Homo sapiens: one gene and its partner. The protein of the gene in region 1 interacts with the protein of each later gene in a biochemical or structural test. Each region holds a gene or a part of one and is shown on either strand. Other genes may lie near its edges.

What was found.
Region 2: the proteins of EFL1 (region 1) and SBDS interact in a biophysical measurement, tested with the Homo sapiens proteins (2 studies listed by BioGRID and IntAct, with this or other methods).

What each region holds. Positions count from the first base shown.
Region 1 is NC_000015.10:82,255,881-82,260,009, forward strand, and holds part of EFL1 (elongation factor-like GTPase 1), read right to left. Parts: intron 3,276-4,129; coding exon 3,208-3,275; intron 1-3,207. UniProt on the Homo sapiens protein: GTPase involved in the biogenesis of the 60S ribosomal subunit and translational activation of ribosomes.
Region 2 is NC_000007.14:66,994,079-66,997,678, forward strand, and holds the start of SBDS (ribosome maturation protein SBDS), read right to left. Parts: upstream 1,509-3,600; 5' UTR 1,340-1,508; coding exon 1,212-1,339; intron 264-1,211; coding exon 134-263; intron 1-133. Other genes in the region: S-adenosyl-L-methionine-dependent tRNA 4-demethylwyosine synthase TYW1, read left to right, coding at 2,901-2,904. UniProt on the Homo sapiens protein: Required for the assembly of mature ribosomes and ribosome biogenesis.

The DNA of each region.
Region 1 (4,129 bases):
TCTTACTCTTCTTCAGTCCCGGCTATTAATTGGTTTATTTGCTCTTCTGTATATATTTTTAAATCAGCATATCAAGTTGAAATTTTTAAAAATCTGTTGGAATTTTTACTGGAATTGCTGAATCTACAGATCAATATTTTTTAAATGTCATTTAAAAAATAGACAGCCAATACGTAAATATGGTATATCCTTCCATTTAAGTTTTCTCCAATATCTCATAGGTTTTGTTGTTATTGTTGTTGTTTTTGAAGAGATGGCGTCTTGTGCTATCCACCAGGCCGGAGTGCAGTTGCTGTCACAGCTCTTTGCAGCCTCAAACTCCTGGGTTTATGCAACTGTCCTGCCTAGCTTCCCAAGTAGCTGGGATTACAGGCATGAGCCACCATGCCCGGCACAGGTACATTTATTATGCTATTTAAATGGTTTACGTTTTTAAATTACTGTATATTACCTATTTATTGCTCACGTATACTTCTTTTCAACAGTTTTCGTATCCTGAAACCTGCCAAATTGTTACTAATATCCTAGCAATTTATCTACATTTTTGTTTTCTTCCTTTCCAAAATTCACACTTTTTATTTTTCTTTCCAGCTTTATCACTGCAACTAGAACCTCCAGTACAATCTAAAGTAGAAGTTATAACACAATGAGCAGAAGGGTGTGACAGCCATTCTTGCCTTATTCCTGGCTATGAATAGAGAAGTTTTAACACTTCATCATTAAGTTCAATCTTCATTTTAGGTTTTTTATAAATATCCCACATCAGATTACAGAAGTTCTCTTCTGTAACTACATTGCAAAGAGGTTTTATCACAATAGATGTTGAATTTTACTACATGTCTTTATATCTGTTGAAATGATCATGATTTTCTTCCTTTAATCCATTAATATAGTGAAATTACATGTTAAACCAATCTTGAATTCCTTGGGATAAACTCGATTTGGATATGAATAATCATCTTTTTATACTATGCTGAATTGTTTGTTAATGAGGATGATAATTTTTGCATCCATAATCATAAGGTTGGTATATAATTCTCCTATATTGTACTATCCTTAACAGACTTTTGGTATCAAAGTTATGCTATCTTCATATGATTTGGAGAATACTGCCGATTGTTGGGTTTTTCTCTGCTATATTTTGAAATGGTTTAAGTAGGACTGAAATTATTCTTTGAATGTTTGGCAGAACTAGAGAGTTAAACCATCTGGGTCTTTACTTTATGGAAAGATTTTTGCCAGCCAATTCAATTTCTTAAATGACTATAGAATAATTCAAGTTTCCTATTTCTTCTTGACTCCATTTTAGCAAGTTATGTTTTCCAGACATTTTTCCATTTTAGCACTTTTAAGTTTACTGGCACAGAGTTGTTCATTATATCCTATTATTACCTTATTAACTTCTGCAGCATTTTTCTTTCTGGGTATCACATATTTCTGCCTCCTCTCTTTTCTTCTTGATCATCTTGCTGGTGTTTTGTCAGTTGTGTTACTCTTCTTTAAAGTCATTCATTCAAAAATATTTATTTATATATACTATGCTTTCTATATGTCCAAAGTACAGTGAGCCACATTAGGAACATTACCAGGTCAAAAGTGTCAAATGTTCCTCAACAATGTCAATGAAAAACAAAACAAAAAAGTTTCCTAGTCAAGAGAATCAAAAATTGTCTATATTGCTAGTAATTGTTTAAATTAATAACTTTATATTTTTAGAGCACCTTTAAGTTTACAGAAAAATTGACTGAAGGTTCCCACATACTCTCTCCTCCCACCCACACAGTTTCCCCTATTATATCTATCTTGTATTAGCATATGGTGTGATACCTTTGTTACAACTGATGAACCAATATTGATGCATTATGATTAATTAAAGTCCATAGTTTACATTAGGGTTCACTCTTTGTATTTGTTAGCTGGGTTAATCTTTTCCAAAAACAAACTTCTGGCTTCACTGATCCTTTCTATAAAATGTCTGTTTACTATTTCATTAATTTATGCTTTACTATTTCCTTTCATCTACTTACTTCAGTTTTGTACTTTCTCTAAATTCTCAAGTGGGGAAAATATAAGCATTTCATTATTTCACTCAACCTAGTTTTCTTCAGCCTCCTCTAGATAGTATCTTGGGCCAGCTTCCCTCCCAACCCACACATCAATTCCCAAATCGATCTTCAAGTCTATTGGGTCTACCCTGTGGATTCAATTTTGCTTCTCCGTCTCCTCTTCTCTCTATTCTCTGTCACCTGATAAACCCTATTGATCATATCCTAAATTCATTATGGAAACGAATATATCTTTATTTTTCTACTGCCAAGTAAATTATTCCAAGCCCTTTCAACTCATAGCTACAAATAAAGATCTCTTTAATTTTATTTCCTCAAACGCTATTTTCAGGCTAGGTGTGGTGACTCACACCTGTAATTCCAGCACTTTGGGAAGTCAAGGCAGGAGGATTGCTTGAGCCCAGGAGTTCAAGATCAGCCTAGGGAACATGGCAAAACCCTGTCTCTACAAAAAATTAGCCAGGTGTGGTGGTGTGCACCTGTAGTCCCAGGTACCCAAGAGGCTGAGGTGGGAGGATCACCTGAGCCCAACAGGGCGAGGTTGCAGTGAGCCGTGCATGATCACACCACTGCACTCTAGCCTGGGCAACAGAGTGAGATCCTGTCTCAAAAACAAAAACCAAAAAACCCACTATTTTCATCACAATCCTCAGGCACAAGCAGCTTTCCTTTGATACTTAGGTTAACTTTTAAGGTCTTCTATAATCTTATTCTCCCTGCCAGTATGTTTTCTCTGTCACTAGTCTCTAGGCAAACACTCCACTCAAATAGAGCACAACACACAAATTAGCCTTTATCCGTCTTATTTCCCACTACCTGGTAGCTTTTCTGTCTTCTCCTCAAACCACTCAACTCATTCACCTACAAAGAATCTCTTGCGCTGTGAAATCTTCCACAATGGTGTATCATTTGCTTGCTGCAAAAACTCACTTTTGCACTTAGGATAAAGCAATACAAAGCAATACAGAAGTAACTATTTTTCTCCTCAGCATTTTTATCTTGCAAAATGGATTGGCAGCTTTTAGACGCAAGAATTATGTTTTATACCCTTTTGGATGGCTGAAGAACACAGAAAATGGTTCATCACATTGTTGATAGCTAATACTGAAATGCAACAAGTATTTATAAAATAATAACATACCTTGCCTGCTAGGCGGCTGGAGATGATTCCATTGCTAGATATAAGACAGTCAGCCAGAGTAGTTTTTCCTGTTAAAATAGCAACATCAATTCAAATCTATATCTTTTTTAAAAGGGGTCATGGATCATACCTATAGATTTAAAATCTGGTCATAAGAATTGGTTTAGTAAAGATTTTCTATTTACCTATGCTAGGTGACAAAAGAGATTTATTAGACTTTTGAACAGAATATCATCTGGAAGGACACAGAGGCTAGCACTCTATAATGCTGTAATCTTATCTCCAACCCTGTGGATCTACTCAACCTCATCTGAAAAGTTGTCAAGTAACTTTAGAGAACATACTCTTTTGCCATATTTCCCCATGCATGGCCTCAGCTGGAATTTGCTAAACTGTCTTAAGAAAATACTTACTTATCAAAGAAATTCAGGAACATTATCCATATCTCTTACTGTTTGTAATATAGCATGTGGAGGGCATAAACATACTGTAACAACCAATGAAACCTAGTATCCAAATCTAAACCTAGGAATCTACTTTAAAGCAAAAGAATCTTCGAATATATTTATAGTTACTTTTATTAAGCAGACTACATACAACTAAAGTCTATGAGATTTTATGTGATATAAACAGGTGATTCTGTGTAAAGAATGTCAGGGGTATGCATAATTACTACAACTGGGTTGGAGTAAGCAAAGGAGGGTTTTTTTCCTTCAAGACAAGTCTTTATTGCACTTTAGGAACTTCAGCAAAGCTATGGAATCTCTGTATTGTTCAAACCAGAGACCAATGAGTAGGAGAACTGAAGATATTTAACACTGCTATCTGTCTGCAATGTAAATATGTATTAGCATATAATCCTAGAGCATCACTTTCCTGCTACCCAGTAAAGCTGAATTTATTCTAAGTACACCAAGTATAT
Region 2 (3,600 bases), on another chromosome or scaffold:
GAAGTGACACTGTGCAGTTCACATTATTGCTTGGTTAGTCTTTCCTCCAGAAAAACAGCCTTTAATGTTTAATATATCTACAAATACGTTATAAATGGTTATTAGGGTTAGCTATGCTGCAGCTGTTACCCACCTGCTTACAGATTTCAGTTTGGTCATCTGTTCCAAACGCACTGATGAGATCTTCCTTTTTGGCAACCTGACCTTTAGAAACATTTACAAACACTGAGTGGGTCTGCAGAACTTCATCGAGGTCTTTTTCCCTTGTGAGGGCAGGAGAGAAAGTCCTATGTGAATATACTTGAAACTTGGACATGCATTTACATTTAAATACGAGATGGCAACAACATGAACGGCAAGACACAACAAATCCCCCTGATGACCTTTAGTGTAGAGGGCAGTTTTCTTTTTCTTACCCCCCAACCCCCGCCCCTAGATGGAATTTCACTGTTTTTGCCCAGGCTGGAGTGCAATGGCGCGATCTCGGGTCACTGTAACCTCAGCCTCCCGGGTTCAAGTGATTCTCCCGCCTCAGCCTCCTGAGTAACTGGGATTACAGGCATGCGCCACCACACCCGGCTAACTTTGTATTTTTAGTAGAGATGGGGTTTCATGTTGGCCAGGCTGGCCTCGAACTCCTGGCCTCAAGTGAACTGCCCGCATCGGCCTGAGGGAACATTTTCAAAACTCAGAACCGTATTTGCCTTACCATTTGCTCACTGGAGAAAAATGTCATGGGAGGACGTAAGAAACACAAGGGTGGGGTGGGGTGCAGACAGCTGCTGCCACGGAATGCCAGTCCCTAGATGGCAGCAGTGAAGACACTACGCACTTTAAACTGCTAGGGCTACTGAGATCTATGACACCAGATGTACCCACAACTATGACAGTATTCGTAAGACTAGGTTCTCAGCCATCATTATTCTAGGAAAAGGACCACAATTACGAGATTTCTTGGCTGCAGCTTTTATGACACCAACAAAACAAAACCCCAAACCAACAACCCAATCCGAACCAACCAAATAAAGAAGAAACCCTTGGCTTAGGCGCCAAGCTCGGACAGCGACGTCTCATGCTCACAGCAGGAATGTTCCATTTCCTCCCCGGCCAACACCCCAGCCTGGCCCATTCACTCGACTTGGGCAGAGACAGGCCGCCTCGGAGGTGACGGCTCAGGCCCAGGCCCAGGCCCGAGGGAGGGGGCTACTCACACGCCGCTCCGCCAGCCGACGACCTTGTTTTTGTAGCAGGCGATTTCGAAGCGCTTCCCGGCACGCTTCATCCGTACCACGGCCACATTGGTTAGGCGGATCTGGTTGGTGGGGGTGAAGATCGACATCGCGGCTGTTCAAAGACCCAGAAGCCGGCGAACCAGGGCTGACCCGCGCCGTCCAGCCTGAAGGCCACCAGCGCCTCGCGGTAACGACCGATCGGCGCGCGGCACTGACCCAACCACCAGTGCGCGGCGCCGCGACTCACTAGCTTCAGGCAGCCGTCACAGTGTGTCTGGCAGGCTTACTTACTGCGCAGGCGTCAGGTGGAGCAGAAGCCGGGAGGGGAAAAGTGAGCGATGACGCCTGCGTATTGTGGCTTTTTACGCCATCTTTCCACGCCCAAAAAGGGAGGTGCTTTTCCTTGGCGTATTTACTTTCGCCAATGAGCTGAGAGCTCTGACAGGATGCTCGCGGATGTTTAGTGACCGGGTTAAAACACAGCGTTGGCACCACCTCGTTCCGCGGAATTCAAGGGCCAGACCCACTTTATAATATAAATATTTTTTATAATAGAATTATTTTATAATAAATATTTTTATTTACTCACCCTTTTATAATAGAAATATTTTAACATAAAATGTAGACAAAAAAGTGTAATGAACCTTCTATGTACCCATCACCCCGCTATCAACATTTTGCCATCCTTGTTTTATTCTTTTTTCATTTTTTTGTTGCTTTTTTATTTACAGTTTTTTTTTTAAGTCAGTCTCACTCTGTCACCCAGGCTGGAGTGCAGTGGCAGGGTCATGGCCCCACTGCAGCTTCGACCTCCTGGGTTCGAGCGATCTTCCAGCGTTAGCTTCCCAAGTAGCTGGGACTACAGGTGTGAGCGGCCACGCCAAGCTAATTTAATTAAATAAATAATTAAAAAAAATTTTTTGTACAGACGAGGTCTCACTATGTTGCTCAGGCTGGTCTCGAACTCCTGGGCTCAAGCGATCCTCCCGCTTCGGCTTCCCAAGTGCTGGGATTACAGGTTTGAGTCACAGCGCCCGGCCGGTTGGGGGTATTTTAAAGAAACCATCATATGGTTTCAGCATTAAATACTTCAGCCTATAGCCCTTAACAGATACACGCGACGAGATTAACTACAATTCCTTAATATCATCTAATAGCGAGTCCATCCTCGGGTTTCCCAAAAATAATGCCTTTCTACAGTCGGTTTATTTCAGTTAAGATCCAAACAGGCCCACATAGCATTTCCCCCGCTCCCCGCTCCTTTCCTCTTTTAATTTTCCCATGCCAATCATTTCTCTCTGGGCCCGCCTTTTCCCAGTCTGAGCCAATCCAAATGGAGGCGGAAGCGCTCCGCCTTCATCGCCTGGAACTCTGGGAGGTGCTTATTTCTGGGCACGCCCCCTTTCCCCTCTGAGCCAATCGGAGCAGGGCCGAGAGCGCACCGGGCACTGGCTTCCTTTCCCGGAGCTCTGGGCTTTCCTCTGGGCCCACCTCTTCGTCCTCTGAACCAATCAGGACCGGCCTGGCAGTGTCATGGCTGCCCACAGGTCTGCAGGCACTCGGTACGCCGCTAACGCGGCGAGGTAGCTCGGTGCGTCTCGCGGTACCAGTGCGAATCATCGGGCTATCCAGGTCCGAGATCCTAGTCTCCTGTCGGCTCTGAGGAGGATGGGTAAGGGCACTCGGCGGGCAAGGACCCTGGGGCGGCAGGGGAGGTAAACGTTTTACTGAGACCCTCTCCGGGCGGAGTGGCGTCCTCGGTCCCTTTCCTTCGGAGACTGTTGCACTTGACAGCACCGGCTAGTCGCCGCTGAGAGCAAGGAGGACTGATCCCTACTTTTGACCTGGCTTTTGCCTTTTGAGGCTAGGGGGTTAGACAGAAAACTACCCCTCCCACTTTACCTACGTGTATTAGGACTTTTGCACCTGTAAAGCCTAAATTTCAGGCCTCGACTTTTGAAATTGCTCCCAGGTTGAACGTTTGAAGCCAGGTCCCTGCATATCTCTCTTAAAAAAAAAAAAATGAGGTGTAAGGTCAGTTACTTGAGAATCTTTTACAAGTTTAACCGTGAGCCTTTGAAAGTACAGTTAGTAAAAAGAGTGCTTTTACTACTTAAGCTTTTTTTATGGAGCAAGCACAACAAAACAAAATTAATTTCACATGAAGTATTTTTACTTTGTGTTCCTTCTCTTGCTTCTAAATGCTCATTTCGAAGTGAAGATACAATTTTATATTCTGTTTTTTCTTTGAGTTAGTGTTAACAGTGTGATAATTTTATTACGTTACTACATAGTGTGTTATTTTTATTACAGTTGTTCCCCACCCCCCCGCCCCCGAGATGGAGCCTTGCTCTGTCGCCCAGGCTGG